Regions from separate parts of the Homo sapiens genome. Here region 1 is linked to region 2. The links come from fine-mapping of genetic effects on gene expression. Tissue or cell type: regulatory T cells. Region 2 holds a variant in brackets; the other region holds the start of a gene. All regions are shown on one strand. Distances are from middle to middle.

Evidence for each region. PIP is the estimated chance that this variant, and not a neighbour inherited with it, causes the effect.
Region 1: C19orf53 starts here. The variant in region 2 is fine-mapped to the expression of C19orf53 in regulatory T cells (Schmiedel 2018, PIP 0.95).

The regions. Positions count from the first base shown.
Region 1 is chr19:13,769,494-13,777,583 of GRCh38, forward strand. It overlaps C19orf53 (chromosome 19 open reading frame 53), which reads left to right and starts at 4,963. Exons shown (of 3, transcript NM_014047.3): 1 at 4,963-5,081; 2 at 5,159-5,214. The coding sequence starts at 4,985. MRI1 (methylthioribose-1-phosphate isomerase 1) reads left to right here. Exons shown (of 6, transcript NM_001031727.4): 6 at 2,628-4,789. The coding sequence ends at 2,788. RefSeq lists enhancers at 4,654-4,723, 4,794-4,993, 4,970-5,499, 5,500-6,028.
Region 2 is chr19:13,576,223-13,584,325 of GRCh38, forward strand. No RefSeq gene overlaps it. Among named protein-coding and RNA genes, the nearest start is that of CACNA1A, 74 kb to the left of the region's middle. The variant TC/T (reference allele first, on the strand shown) is at 4,710.

The DNA.
Region 1 (8,090 bases), 190 kb after region 2:
TGGAGGTCAGATCCAATGTTGGAATTTACAACTAACCGGTTATATGAATGATCTTGAGTAACTGTCTTGCTATTCTCCACTTAGGTTTTCTTAAGAGGAAATAAGAATATCTGGCTGGCCACGTGTTTGTAAAGAAAAACCAAGACGGCCAGGCGAGGTGGCTCACACCTGTAATCCCAGCACTTTGGGAGGCCGAGGCGGGCAGATCACAAGGTCAGGAGTTCGAGACCAGCCTGGTCAACATAGTGAAACCCCGTCTCTACTAAAAATACAAAAATTAGCCGGACATGGTGGCACCCGCCTGTAGTCCCAACTACTCAGGAGGCTGAGGGAGGAGAATCACTTGAACCTGAGAGGCGGAGGTTGTGGTGAGCTGAGATTACACCATTGCACTCCAGCCTGGGCAACAGAGTGAGATTCTGTCTCAAAAAAAAAAAAGAAAAGAAAAAGCAAGATATTTCTACACTTATTTTTATTTGTTTATTTTCATAGAGATAGGGTCTCGCTATGTTCCCCAGGCTGGTCTCAAACTCCTGGCCTCAAGCGATCCTCCTGCCTCAGCCTCCCAAAGCACTGAGATTACAGGTGTGAGCTCCCATGCCTAGCTGCAAGACTTTTCTTAGCTGCCTATACTTCCTGGCTGTGCAACCGTTAGCAAGTTCCCTAAATTCTCTAATTCCCTAAGATCCTCACTGGTCCTATCTGTAAAATGGGCTATGGCTAGAACCTGCTGCATAAACCCAAGGGCGGTCAGTGAATTAACCCACAGGACATTTAGATCAATGACTGGCCCTTTAAATAGTTCATGCACTCAGATGCCGTGGCTCACGCCTATAATCCCAACACTTTGGGAGGCGGAGGTGGGCGGATCACTTGAGGTCAGGCGTTCCAGACCAGCCTAGCCAACAGAGCGAAACCACGTCTCTACTAAAAAAATATAAAAATTAGCCAGGCGTGGTGGCACATGCCTGTAGTCCCATCTACTTGGGAAGCTGAGGCATGAGAATTGCTTGAACCTAGGACGCAGAGGTTGCAGTAAGTTGAGACTGCACCACTGCACTCCAGTCTGGGTGACAGAGCGAAACTCCATCTCAAAAATAAAAAAAAAGGCCGAGCGCTGTGGCTCACGCCTGTAATCCCAGCACTTTGGGAAGCCGAGGCGGGCGGATCACCTGAGGTCGGGAGTTCAAGACCAGCCTGACCAACATGGAGAAACCCTGCCTCTACTAAAAATACAAAATTAGCCGGGCGTGGTGGCACATGCCTGTAACCCCAGCTACTCAGGAGGCTGAGGCAGGAGAATTGCTTGAACCCGGGAGGCGGAGGTTGCAATGAGCCAAGATAGCGCCACAGCACTCCAGCCTGGGCAACAAGAGTGAAACTCCATCTCAAAGAAAAAAAAGAAAAAACAGTTCATGAAATATTAGCATGAACCAATATTAGCATTATGGGGCCAGGTAAAATGGCTCACACCTGAAATCCCAGTATTTTGGGAGGCTGAGGTGGGAGGATCACTTGAGCTCAGGAGTTCAAGACCAGCCTGGGCAACATTGCCAGACCACAATCTCTAAAAAAATTGTTTTGCCAGGTGTGGTGGTTCATGATTGTAACCCCAGCACTTTGGGAGGCTGAGGCGGGCGGATCACCTGAGGTCAGGGGTTCGAGACCAGCCTGGCCAATGTGGTGAAACCCCGTCTCTACTAAAAATACAAAAAAAAAAAACGTTAGCTGGGCGAGGTGGCAGGCGCCTGTAATCCCAACTACTTGGGAGGCTGAGGCAGGAGAATCGCTTGAACCTGGGAGGCACAGGTTGCAGTGAGTTGAGATCATGTCACTGCACTCCAGCCTAGGTGACAAGAGCAAAACTCCATCTCAAAAAAACAAAAAAACAGCTAGACATGATGGTGCACATCTGTGGTCCCAGCTGCTCAGGAGGCTGCAGCAGGAGAATCGTTTGAATCCAAGAGGCAGAGGTTACACTGAGCCAAGATCGCACCACTGTACTACAGCCTGGGTGACACAACGAGACTCTGTGTCAAAAATAATAATAATAATTAAAAATAAAACTAAAAAAATAAGTGGGATGGGCCAGGTGCGGTGGCTCACGCCTGTAATCCCAGCACTTTGGGAGGCCGAGGCGGGCAGATCACCTGAGGTCGGGAGTTTGAGACCAGCCTGACCAACATGGAAAAACCTCGTCTCTACTAAAAATACTGGCTGGGCATGGTGGTGCATGCCTGTAATCCCAGCTACTCGGGAGGCTGAGGCAGGAGAATTGCTTGAAACCTGGGAGGTGGAGGTTGCAGTGAACCAAGATCGTGCCATTGCACTCCAGCCTGGGCAACAAGAGCAAAACTACATCTCACAAAAAATAAAAAAATAAGTGGCATAGATGTGTATAGGACTTTGAATTTTTCTTGGGGACTGACATTCTAGGGGCAGTGGCGAGTCTAAACTTACTATTGAGTACAATGTCCATGCCTGCATGTACTTTTGGGGTGAGAATCCTCAGGTTCTCAAGGACTCCCCAACTCCAAGAACCACTGTGGTAGAAACAGATGACTACAACCTGAGAACTTTCACAGAAGCAAATTCTTGCCTCCTTGCCTCCCCTCTCTCCCCTGCAGGGATTGGAGTTTGGAATCCTGCCTTCGATGTCACCCCCCACGACCTCATCACTGGTGGCATCATCACAGAACTGGGGGTCTTTGCCCCTGAGGAGCTCCGGACAGCCCTAACCACCACCATCTCTTCCAGGGATGGAACCCTAGATGGACCCCAGATGTAACCAACTCAGCTCTCCCTAGCCTGCCTCTCTAGGTTTTTCAATACATTTCTTGAATGGCTACCCAAAAGCTGACCGTCCAGCCCCTGACCACACTTGTTCCTAGTGCAGGGAGCTCAGACAGGGCCTTCCATCTAGAGCCCAGCACCTAGAGCCAGGCTGCCCAGATTCAAATCCTGACTCCGCCACTTTTCCCACTGTATGATCTTGGGCAAGTCACTTCACCTCTCTGTGCCTTGGTTTCCTCATTTATAAAATGTGGATAACAGGCCGGGCGCAGTGGCTCACACCTGTAATCCCAGCACTTTGGGAGGCCGAGGCAGGTGGATCACAAGATCAGGAGATTGAGACCATCCTGGCTAACATGGTGAAACCCCATCTCTACTAAAAATACAAAAAATTAGCCGGGTGTGGTGGTGGGCACCTGCAGTCCCAGCTACTTGGGAGGCTGAGGCAGGAGAATGGCGTGAAACTGGGAGGCAGAGCTTGCAGTGAGCCGAGATAGCGCCACTGCACTCCAGCCTGGGCAACAGAGCGAGACTCCGTCTCAAAAATAAATATAATTAATTAATTATTTAATTAAAAAAATAAAAAATAAATGTGGATAATACTAGTACCTCCCTCTTAAGGTCAGGGCTGGAGCTAGGGTGACATCTCCAGGGCAGAATTTTAAGAGGACACCAAAAAAGCTCAGCAACCAAGATAAAAAATATTTTAAAGCAATATTTTGTTTTGGGTTTTTTTTTTTTGAGATCAAGTATCACTCGTTACCCAGGCTGGAATGTAGAGGCGAGATCTCAGCTCACTGAAACCTGTGCCTCCCCGGTTCAAGCGATTCTCCTGCCACAGCCTCCTGAGTAGCTGGGATTACAGGCATGCGCCACCATGCCCAGCTAATTTTTCTATTTTTAGTAGAGACATGATTTCACCATGTTGGCCAGGCTGGTCTCGAACTCCTGACTCAAATGATCCCCCTGCCTCAGCCTCCCAAAGTGCTGGGACTACAGGCATGAGCCACTGTGCCTGACCTTACAGCAGTATTTTTTAAAAATCAAAATTAATGCAAAAATCCATGATGAGGCCAGGCTTGGTGGCTCATGCCTGTAATTCCAGCACTTTGGGAGGATCCCTTGAGCCCAGGTGTTTGAGACCAGTTTGGGTAACATAGGAAGAGCTTGTCTCTACAAACAAAAATTTAAAAACAATGAGCTGGGCATGGAACTCACACCTCTAGCCCCAGCTACTCAGGCTGAAGTGGGAGGATGGCTTGAGCCCAGGAGTTCAAGGATGCAGTGTGCTTTGATTGCACTACTGCACTTCACCCTAAGCAACAGAGTGAGACCCCATCTCTTTAAAAAAAAAAAAAAATCCATGATGAACAAAACAAGTATTTGTTTGAGACGGGGTCTCGCTCTGTCGCCCAGGCTGGAGTACAGTGGTGCCATCTCAGCTCACTGCAACCTCCGCCTTCTGGGTTCAAGCGACTCTCCTGCCTCAGCCTCCCGAGTAGCTGGGATTACAGGAGCCTGGCACTATGCCTGGCTAATTTTTGTATTTTTATTGGAGACACCATGTTAGTCGTGGCTGGTCTCCAACTCCTGACCTCGGGTGATCCGCGCCCCGCGGCCTCCGAAAGTGCTGGGATTACAAGCGTGAGCCACCGTGCCCGGCCTAAATAAAATTTTGAAGAGGCTAGAACCCCGCACTTGTGCCTTGAGCTTACTGACCTCAACACCCTGGTTCCACTAAAACTTTATTTACAAAATTATGCTGCCGGTCTGCAGGATGTAGTTTAACAATTTGATTATTTTGGATATTAAAATATTTTTTAAGTCTTGAAAATATTGTTTACTATTACCAAAGTTTTTGAACCTTCTTAAATTCTGTACCAGAGGTGAGTGCCACACCCTAACCTAGTCTGAGTTTTTATGTGTAAAGATCATAAAACGTTGTAAGTTTTCTAAAACACATAAGCTCTCAATAAACGTTAGCTTATCATTGTCACCGTTTTGTTCGTAATGTTTGAAAACTCCAACTGTGATCCACTACACTACCCTTGTGGGATGCTGTCTCTTTAACTCTGTGCCACGTTGTATCCCGTGAGTTCTTGCGTTTTTCCGCCCCGCTGTATCCCATGGTTCCCTGTGCCTTCCGGCTACGACTGCTCACAGTCCCGCCTCTTCCGCTGCGTGCCGGACCATGGCGCAGGGGCAGCGCAAGTTTCAGGCGCACAAACCCGCAAAGAGTAAGACGGCAGCGGCAGCCTCTGAAAAGAATCGGGGCCCAAGAAAAGGCGGTAAGGAGCGGCCCGGGGACTTGGGGGCGAGGTGGACCCCCGGCTTCCCGGCCTCACGTGAGCACATCTTTCCCCAGGTCGTGTTATCGCTCCCAAGAAGGCGCGCGTCGTGCAGCAGCAAAAGCTCAAGAAGGTGTGCGGGGGCGAGAGATGGAGCCCGGAGGGCGGCGAGTAGCGAGGGGTGGAACCCGGAGGACGGCGAGGGGGGATGGGTGGAGCCCGGGGATCAGTGAGGGGAGAGGGTGGATCCTGGGGACGAGCTAGGAGCGAGGGGATAGAGCCAGGGGCCGCGTTAGGAGCGAAGGATGGAGCCCGGGGCGCAGAGAGGGGTAAGAGGTGGAAGCTGGCGAGGGATAGGGGCTGGGGGACGTGCTAGGGACGAGAGATGAAATCTGGAGGCCGGCGAGGGAAGGAGCACAGGGATCGGCAAAGGGCAAGGGATGAGGCCTGGAGGACTCCCAGCTCTGTGGGCCTCCCTTTTCTTCCTTGTGCAAGGGGTGCAGGAACACCACTTACCACTTCAAAAGGGCCTCGTAGAAGCAAGACCTGCGGCCCAAAAAGGGTTCCAATAACGTCAGCCTCTTGCTGTTACTGTTTTCTTTAATTGAACTCAGGAAGACAGCGAGGTGACATGGGAAGGGAATTGAAAGCCCAGCTTTGTAAACCTAGAACAGCAGAGGGCTCAAAGAAGTGTGAGGGTGCGTTGGTTATCGTCATTTTTTTTTGAGTCAGGGTCTCACTGTTGCCCAGGCTGGAGTGCAGTGGCCCCATTATAGCTCACTGCAGCCTCAGCCTCCTGGACTTAGGCAATCTTTCCGTCTCAGCCTCTCGAGTAGGTAGAATTGCAGGTGCTCGCCAATACGCGGCTAATTTTATTTTTTTTGTATTTTTGGTAGAGACAGGTTTCACTATGCTGCTCGGGCTGGTCTTGAACTCCTGGCCTCAAGGCATCCTCCCGCCTCTGCCTCCCAAAATGCTGGGATTACAGGCGTGAGCCACCCTATGGTTGTTTTTAAGTGCAACATTTATATGTAGATGGGTAAGGTTGAGCTTGTAAAGAAGTTGGAAGGAGATTTAAAACTGGTTTTGGTGGGAGTCAAACCTGGGTTTGAATTGTACTCCACAGTAAACAGCCCTGTGATCTTGAGCAAATTGTTTCGTCACCCCAGAGTGTCGGTTTTCTCAGAACTGGGTACCCACTGGCCCGCTTACCTCCGTGGAGTGGGGAATCTCATGGTCACCTTGCACTCAGCATGTCCAAAACCAAATTCCTGATCCTCCCTTCCCATTCTGCCCTCCTCCCCCTGTGATCACTTCCTTCCAGATGCCATAGGTCATCCTTGAATCCCTCCTTTCTCTCACATCCCGGTCTCATCCCATTTGTTTTGTTTTGTTTTTTTGAGATGGAGTCTCGCTCTGTCGCCCAGGCTGGAGTGCAGTTGAGTGATCTTGGCTTAGGTGCAACCTCTGCCTCCTGGGTTCAAGCGATTTTCCTCCCTCAGCCTCCCGAGTAACTGGGATTACAGGCCTGCACCACCACACCGGGCTAATTTTTTTTTTTTTTTTTTTTTTTTTTTGTAATTTTAGTAGAGATGGGGTTTCACTATGTTGGCCAGGCTGGTCTCGAACTCCTGACCTCATGATCTACCCGCCTCGGCCTCCCAAAGTGCTGGGATTACAGGCATGAGCCACTGTGCTCGCCCCTATTTTGCCCTTAGAATCAATCCAGAATCCACCCGCCTCCCATCTTCTTGGCCCCTACCTGGTCCCACCCACATCATTTCCCACCGGGACCAGTGCAGCCACCTTCTCCCTTGTCTCCTGGATCCCACCTGGTCCTCTCACAGAAGCCAGAGGGTGCCCATGAGCACCTGAGTCGGTTCCCTCCCTCCTTGGCTCAGAATCCTCCATGGCTTCCACCTCACCCAGGAAAAAGGTCCAGTCCTCACTCAGCCACAAGGCCCTGTAGAATCTGCCCTCGTCTCCTTCCACCCTCTCCTCTGCTAACTCCCTCTAGCCTTACTGGCCCCTGACCCCTCCTTCCCGGAGCCCTTCCTGGGCTCCTTGTCCCACCTGAGAACTTTTGCACTGGCTGTTTCCTCTGCCTGGATTCCTCTCCCAATAATACACACTGCTCCCTTCTTCCAACTCTCTTCAAAGAGGCCTGCCTTGATGGTGACCTGTACCCATCCCTCCTCACTCCTGTTTCCTCTTTGCCATAGCAGCGCTTACCATCCTTTAACAGTGTAACATATTACGCTACTGATGCTTATATTGTCCCGGTACATGCACTGAATTCCAGCTCCATGACCCCTGCATCCAGGCACCTGGTTAGCTGTCCCGATGCTGGTGATCGTGGTCATTGGAACTGTTTTTGTTTTTTGTTTTTGTTTTGAGATAGAGTTTCGTTCTTGTTGCCCAGGCTGGAGTGCAGTGGTGCGGTCTGGGCTCACTGCAACCTCTGCCTCCTGGGTTCAAGCAATTCTCCTGCCTCAGCCTCTCGAGTAGCTGGGATTACAGGCGCCCGCCACCACACCTGGCTACTTTTTGTGTTTTTAGTAGAGATTGGGTTTCACCATGTTGGCCAGCCTGGTCTAGAGCTCCTGACCTCAGGTGATATGCCTGCCTTGGCCTCCCAAGGTGCTGGGATTACAGCCACTGCACCCAGCCGGAACTTTTTTTTTTTTCTTTGAGACGGTCTCACGCTGTCCCCCAGGCTGCAGTGTAGTGGAACGATCATAGCTCACTGCAGCCTGGACCTCCTGGGCTCGACCACCCAAACAGCTGAGACGAGAGGCACGCACCAGCACACCGTGCTAATTCTTTCTTTTAGTACAGATGCAGTCTCGCTGTGTTGCCCAGGCTGGTCTCGAGTTCCTGGGCTCAAGTGATCTTCCTGCCTCAGCCTCGCAAAGTGCTGGGATCACAGGCTTGAGCCACCACACCCAGTCCGTCGGAACTCAGAATGGCAGGGCAGAGGCAGTCTGGGAAAGGCGACTGAGCCACCAG
Region 2 (8,103 bases):
TTGCACTTGCTGTTCTCTCTGCTTGGAACTTCCTTTCCCAAGAACTTTGCATGGCTGGCTCATCCTCTTCATTAAGCACTCAATTCAAATATCAGTTCACCAGATGAACCACCCCTAACCACCTTTTCTTAGGTTCTCCTGTTTCAGTCACGTTTTACCCCATCGCAGTGTTATTGTCAATCTCACTGCCTCAAATTATTGTATTATCTATTTACTAGTATATTATCTGTTTTCCCTTATAAAATTTAAACTCCATGAGTGTAAAGTCCTTGTCTGATTTGTTCTCTGCCTCCAAAGTGTTCAGTGATAAGTTGGTGAGGTGATGGGTATGTTAATTAGCTTGATTGAATCTTTCCATAATGTACACATAGGTTGAAATATCACATTGTAGCCCATGAATATATACAATTGTTGTTTGTCAATTAAAGTCATTTTTAAAGCTGCTTGATGAATCTCTGTTGAATGATTAATGAATGAACCTCATCCACTTCCATCCCTTCTATAACTATGTCTATGTAGCACTTACTGTGTGCCAAGCACTGTTCTAAGTAATTTGCATGTATTAATTAATTTGATGCTAACAATCTCTCTGAGAGGTAGGTGATGCAATTATCATCCCCATTTCATAGTTGAAAAAAACTGAGGCACAAGATGTTGGTCCAGTAACTGGTATACAAGCCAATGAAATCTGGATTTGGTATCAGAAGTGGGGTGCCGTTAAATGCACTAAGATTACAAAGCTGGTAAGACGTTGGGCCAGGATTTGAAGCCAGGCACTGTGGCTCCTGAGCCTACAGGCTTAGTCACTCTGTTCAATTTCTCACAGTTCCCCAAACACTATTTCTACCCACTTTTAGTCTCTTCTGCTCTGTTCCCCAATTTCTTATAGCCTCCTAGGCAACTCCACTTTGACTCTCCCCAAACTAGAAATCTCAGATTTCCCTTTGAACTCACCTGTTCTTTCACTTCCTAGATGAAGTGGTACTTAACTTGTTTATAATTCAGGGAGCCTGTAAATTTGGTTGGGAAAATTCGCATATTCATTACAGCCTCTAGCTGTAATTATGCATGGAGGCAACAAATTGCAGCAATATTAGCAGTGTTCATGACACCTGTGACTTTGTCATCAACAGAAACCACATCTCAGCTGGGGGCAGTAGCTCACGCCTGTAATCCCAGCATTTTGGAAGGCCAAGGCAGGTGGATCACTTGAGCTCAGGAGTTTGAGACTGGCCTGGGGAACGTGGTGAAACCCCCATCTCTACAAAAAAATACAAAAATTAGCTGGGCATGGTGGTGCACACCTGTAGACCCACCTACTCAGGGGGCTGAGGTTGGAGGATCACTTGCACCTGGGAGGTAGAGGCTGCCATGAGCTGTGATCTCACCACTGCACCTGGGAGGTAGAGGCTGCCGTGAGCTGTGATCTCATCACTGCACTCCAGCCTGGGCAACAGAGTGACTCTCTCTCAAAACAAACAACCAACCAAAAAACAGAAACCACATTTTTATTATGTCACATTGTAATTATTGCAGATATCTTGAAACTCACTTACTCTCATGACTACCTTGAAGTTGTTAGGTCTGTTACTAGCTCTTGTTATTTATGCATTATGAAAGAAACACATTAGTGATGTATGACAAATCTGTTCTTTCAAATATTTTTATAACTAATGTTCAATGTAATTGATTTCCTCTGCATTTGATATTATGCACTTAAAAAGCACAATTCTGAGAAGAGATCCCTTGGCTTTTGTCAAACTGAAGAGAGCTCCACGGCTCAGAAAATGTTAAGAATCTTCACGCCAGCCAATTAGCAAGTGAATCCTATTGATTCTCCTTCTAAAGTGTTTCTTAGATCCTCTCCCCACCTTTATTCCCAACACTGCTGTCCTAGTTCAGCTATCTCCTGACTCACTGGCATTGCCCCCCTCCACACCTCCCTCTTGCTCATCTTCCCCTCCCAGTTTTAAAAATCTATGACAAAATTAATAACTAGTATTTACACTGAGTTTTAGGGTTTACAGCAGATGTTACAAACTCAGAGCTCACAAATTACTTCCTTGATCTATCCACATCTTAAGATAAAAATATGTTCAGAACAAGTCAGGAGATTACATATAAAAGTGAAATTTTTGCTTTTTCTCAAAAACTCAGACGATTTACCCGAGCTGAGCCTACATTCCTGCATGACAGCAATCAGCTTCTATTGAATAATGGTTATATCCTTCAGATGAGCCTGGAGCTATCTAGTTTGCCAAAGACCTCACCACTCTCTAATGTCTCCCTGACATGGAAGCTGCCCCAGTCACCATTACCCACTTGGCCCCTGTAGACAATTGAGTTTAGCAACCCTGGATTTCAAAGTACCTTATTTGATCCTTATAAAAGCCCTGCAGAGTGTGTATGGTACAGATTCTTATCCTGTTTTACAGATGATGCAACTGAAAACTCATGAAAGTTAAATAAAACACAGGGTCACGTAAGAGTAGAAAGAGCTGGCATTTTTCTCTCCAGACTCTGTACTTCCCACTGACCTGGACTCTTTTCAGAAATTACTTTGTAAAACACCATTATGATGTGTTGAAGTGCATGGTCTCCCATCAAAAGACCTCCGATGCTACTCAGGAGGCTGAGGTGGGAGGATCTCTTGAGTCTAGGAGTTCAAGACCAGCCTTGGCAACATAGTGAGACCCCGTCGCTCAAAAAATAAAATAAAATAATTAGCCAGGCATAGTGGTGTGCACCTGTAGTCCCAGCTACTTGGGAGGCTGAGGTGGGAGGATTACTTGAGCCCAGGAGTTCCAAGCTGCAATGAGCCATACACGATTGCACCACTGCACTCCAGCCAATGGTGGACAGACCTCCAATAGCCTGGTCAATGAAAATGGGATAAATCCCAAGCTTCCCAAGGTGATATCTGAGCTCCTTCAAACCTGGCAGCCTCCCTTGCAGCTTCTGCTTTCAAGTTTGACACGCCCCTTCTTTAAAGTCAGACTTTTGAATGTTCAATTATGCAAAGCCACCATGCTATAAGGAAGCTCAAGCTAGCCACATGGAGAGAAAGAATATACTGAAAAAGCTCATGTTTGGTGCAAACATGTGAGTGAAACCTCATGGACTGTCCAGCCCTGCCAGCCATCAACATAACGCAGCTAAATGAGAGACTGCATTATGTTGAGATTACAGCAGAACCACACTCCTGAGTTTGCAAACCCACCTTCTTATCTATTTGAGATACTCACGTGCTCAGACACAAAAACTAAAGATAAAGACGTGAGTAAGTAGATCAAACACACTGCAGGGAAGGTTAAAATATGTAGCTACCAGTAGGAGGCACTATCCCCAGAGCACTGATTGTCAGGAGGCATGGGAGGACCCAGGAAGGGACTTGGGTGGGTGGGGGAGCTCACTAGGGGCCTCCAGGCAACAGCTATTTACTAACTGGTGTGGAAATATTTTAATATTTTAACAATCAGCTGTGCCAATGTGTCTCAGCTGAATATCTGCCCTGAATACACAGAAAGGAGATTATTGAAGCCAAAAGAATAAGAATCCAAGCCGTGAATCATACTGCAATCATTCCGCCTTGGCTTAGAAATGGATTAGACACCATCATGTTTTTTCATTCCCCAGTGGATTTTAAATTTCCAAGTTGGTATAAACCTGGGGGCCTCTGCTGAGTGTATCATAAGTAAAGTGGAACGTGATGACTCGCACACTGGCTAGAATCGCCTGGGAACTTTATTTTTATTTTATTTGTATAGCAGCAGAGTCTTGCTCTGTTGCCCAGGCTGAAGGGCAGTGGCATGATCATAATTCACTGCAGTCTTGACCTCCTGGGCTCAAGCAATCCTCTTGCCTCAACCTCCCGAGTAGCTGGGACTACAGGTGCATGCCACCATGCCTGGCTAAATTTTAAACAAAATTTTTCGTAGAGATGGGATCTTGCTATATTGCCCAGGCTGGTCTCAAACTCCTGGCCTAAAGCCAGGAGCCAGGCCTCCCAAAAGCACTGGGATTGCAGGCATGAGCTACCATGCCCAGCCTACCAGGTAACTTGAAAAGTGCTAATGCCAGGACCCTACATCCAGAGTTGGATTTAATGGAGTAGGGCCTGGACATCATGATTTTTAAAACAGCCCAGATGATTGTGCAGCCAAGGTTGGGAACCACTGATGTAAAGCCATGCTTCTTAAAATGCGGTCCACAAACCAGCAGCAGCAGCATCACCTAGGAGCTTGGAGAAATGCAGAGTCTCAGGCTCTGCTGGGACCTACTGAATCAGCAACCCCAAGGTGAACCCAGAAATATCTGTGTTTTCACAAGCCCGAAGGGGGGGGCTGATGTGTGCTCAAGGACCAGAGAGCTGGCAGAATGAAAGATCCACTACCTGTTTCTCTTGCAAGACCGCCATGCCACATGGACGCAAGGTCAATGAAAACCCTCCAAAACTCCACTGTGCCATGAACATGCTGGGGTCTCCAAGTCCAGCACACAGGCTAATCTGGGGCTGGAGACTTTGTTTTTTGTTTTTGTTTTGAGATGGGGATCTCACTCTGTCACGCAGGCTGGAGTGCAGTGCTATGATCACAGCTCACTGCAGCCTTGAACTCACAGGCTCAAGCGATCCTCCCACCTTCCCACCTTAGCCTCCCGAGTAGCTAGGACCACAGGCACGCACCACCACGCCTGGCTAATTTTTTTTT[TC/T]TTTTTTTCTGTACAGATGGGGGTCTCACTATGTTGCCCAGGCTGGTCTCAAACTCCTGGCCTCAAGCAGTCCTCCCACCTCGGCCTCCCAAAGTGCTGAGATTACAGGCATGAGCCACTGTGCCTGGCCATGGGCTGGAGATTTTGGACACAGATCTCAGGAGACTGAACCAGACTCTGGAAAATTGGCTGTGCTTGTGGGAGCCAACCAAGGGAACATTTAAGGTACGCCTGAGAGGTCCCACCAAAGGGGGAAAGAAAATGGGTGAAAATGAGTCCTACCCTCTGCAATTGAGAAGCCCAAGGAGCTCTCCAACGGGCTGCACCTGCTCCTGCTTTAGGGAGCCTCTTTTTTTTTTTTTTCTCGCTCTGTTGCCCAGGCTGGGGTGCAATGGCACGATCTCGGCTCACTGCAATCTCCACCTCCTAGGTTCAAGCAATTCTCCTGCCTCAGCCTCCCGAGTAGCTGGGATCACAGGTGCCCGCCACCACGCCCGGCCAATTTTTTGTATTTTTAGTAGAGAAAGGGTTTCACTGTGTTAGCCAGGATGGTCTCAATCTCCTGACCATGTGATCCTGCCACCTTGGCCTCCCAAAGTGTTGGGATTACAGGCGTGAGCCACCGTGCCCCGCCAAGCGAACCTTTTTAAATGGGGACATCCTCATTCTAAGGCAAGCACTGAAGAGTTCCAGAATGTTCCCGCAGGCCCACCCGCAGGACCAATGCACGGACTCCGTGCCACTTTGTGATGGATTGTAGTCATGCGTGTCTACTGAAAAGCCTTACATATTGTGCCTTGGGTGCTGCCCTGTGTTCCGAAGCTTGCTTCTAGGGCCTGTGCACTCAGCCGTGAACATTTAAATGGCAGCTTTGAGACAAGGCCTCAGCTGTTCTCTGGTCCAGACATAAGAAGCCAGAGCTTTGAAAATGGACCCAGTTCGGCCAGGTGCAGTGGCTCACACCTGTAATCTCAGCACTTTGGGATGCCGAGGCAGGCAGATCACCTGAAGTCAGGAGTTTGAGACCAGCCTGGCCAACATGGTGAAACCGCACCTCTACTAAAAAATAAAAATTAAAAAATTAGCCAGGTGTGGTGGGCAGGTGCCTGTAATCCCAGCTACTCAGGAGGCTGAGGCATGGGAATCACTTGAACCCAGAGGTTGCAGTGAGCCGAGAAGTGCACCACTACACTTCAGCCTGGGGGATACAGTGAGAATCTGTCTCAAAAAAAAAAGAAACAAAGAAACAAAGAAAATGGACCCAGTTAAACTTGTATGAATTTGAGAAAGTTTTTTTTAACCATTCTGGGCCCTAGTTTCCTAATTTAAAAAAGGGAAGAGGTGAGCCAGACACTGTGGCTCATTCCTATAATCCCAGCTACTTAGGAGGCTGAGGCAGGAGGATTGCTAAAGGCCAGGAGTTTGAGGCCAGCCTGGACAACATAGAAAGACCCCTGTCTCCACAAAAAAAAATTTAATTAGCTAGTGTGGTGGTGTCCACCTGTAGTCTCAGCTACTCAGAAGGCTGAGGCAGGAGGATCACCCGAGCCCAGGAGTTCAAGGCTGCAGTGAGCTATGATTGCACCACTGCACTCCAGCCTGGGCAACAGAGCGAGACCCTGTCTCTTTATTTATTTGGTTTTTTTTTTTTTTGAGACAGAGTCTCGCTCTGTTGCCCAGGCTGGAGTGCAGTGGTGCAGTCTTGACTCACTGCAACCTCTGCCTCCTGGGTTCAAGGGATTCTCCTGCTGTAGCCTCCCGAGTAGCTGGGATTACAGGTGTGCACCACCATGCCCAGCTAATTTTTTTGTTGTTTTTAGTAGAGATGGGGTTTCACCATGTTGGCTGGTCTGGTCTCAAACTCCTGACCTCAAGTTATCCACCTGCCTCGGCCTCCCAAAGTGCTGGGATTACAGGTGTGAGCCACCACGCCCGGCCCCCTATCTATTTAAAGAAAAAAAGAGAAGAAGAAGGAATTTGCACATATATCCTATATATTTGCACAAATAAAAAAATAAAAATTAAATTAAAAGGAGGGAGGAGTAATTAAAGATATGATTTTCCAAGATTGTCCTAAAAATAAAAAAGAGAGTATGAGTGCCTATGGCACTGATTGGCATGTGGACAGGATAACGTGCTTCATAAATGTTAATAAGAAAAATAAATAGGCCTTCCTATTTGAGACTTAAGGGCGTTTGATATCACCATCTCTCCAGAAAGGACCATCTGAAACATCCTCTCTTAGTTCCCATTAACCTCTCACTGTGATTTATAGCAGAAGTTAGCAGTCAACGTCCTGCAGGCCAGATACAGCCCACTATCTGGTTCTTTACAGAAGTCTGCAAATCCTAGATTTAGAGGTCAGATTTTCATCTCTCAGCCACAAACACATTCCAACCTCATATCTTGCTTTCACCCAGCCTTTACTAACCACCTGCTATATGCTAGGCTCTGGTGAAACATAACCAATAAGATAAAGTCCATGCCCTTTTGGAGGTCACACCTCGGAGTATGGGTGGGAATTTGTTCATTTCACTTAATTTAACAGGCCTAACCAGGTGCAGTGGCTCATGCCTGTAATCTCAGCACTTTGGGGGGCCAAAGGTAGGCAGATTGCTTGAGGTCAGGAGTTTGAGACCAACCTGGCCAATATGGTGAAACCCTGTCTCTACTAAAAATACAAAAATTAGCCAGACATAGTGGTGGATGCCTGTAATCCTAGCTACTCTGGAGGCTGAGGCAGGAGAATGGCTTGAACCCAGGAGTGGAGGCTGCAGTGAGCCAGGATCGCATCGCTGCACTCCAGCCTGGGCAATAGAGTGAGACTCCTTTCAAAATAATAATAATAATTATTATTATTATTATTATTTAACTGGCCATTCCTGCTTATAATGTGAGATGCACTGTCCTAAGCATTTTTCAAATGCTTAATTCTTGTAATGACCCTATGAAGTGACTGCTATTTTTTTCCTGCATTTTGCAGGCAAGGAAACAGAGGCTCAGAGAGGTGAAGTCACTTGTCCAAGGTCACACAGCAAATAGTTAGAACCAGGGTGTGAATCCAGCCAGACTAGCTCCAGAGCCAATAAGCTCCACAGTCTCCTTATTCAGAAGCCCTTGACCTAGCATACAGATGGAGGCACTACACATAAATATTGACCAGGCGGTGCCCAGACCACAGAAGGAAAAAAAAAGAAAGTGACTTATCCTTCAAGACACTGTTATTTGAACCTGGCCTTGTCAGTGCTCTCTCCCAGACTTTCTGCACTAGGAACTGTTGTTATCTTCCTTCAGTGCTCAGAGAGGCTGTGGCAGTTGCCCAGGGTCGCCCAGCTCTAACAGGATGAGCTGGGATTTTCAAGGTGGCTCCTTTTGTCCCCAGATCTGTCTTTT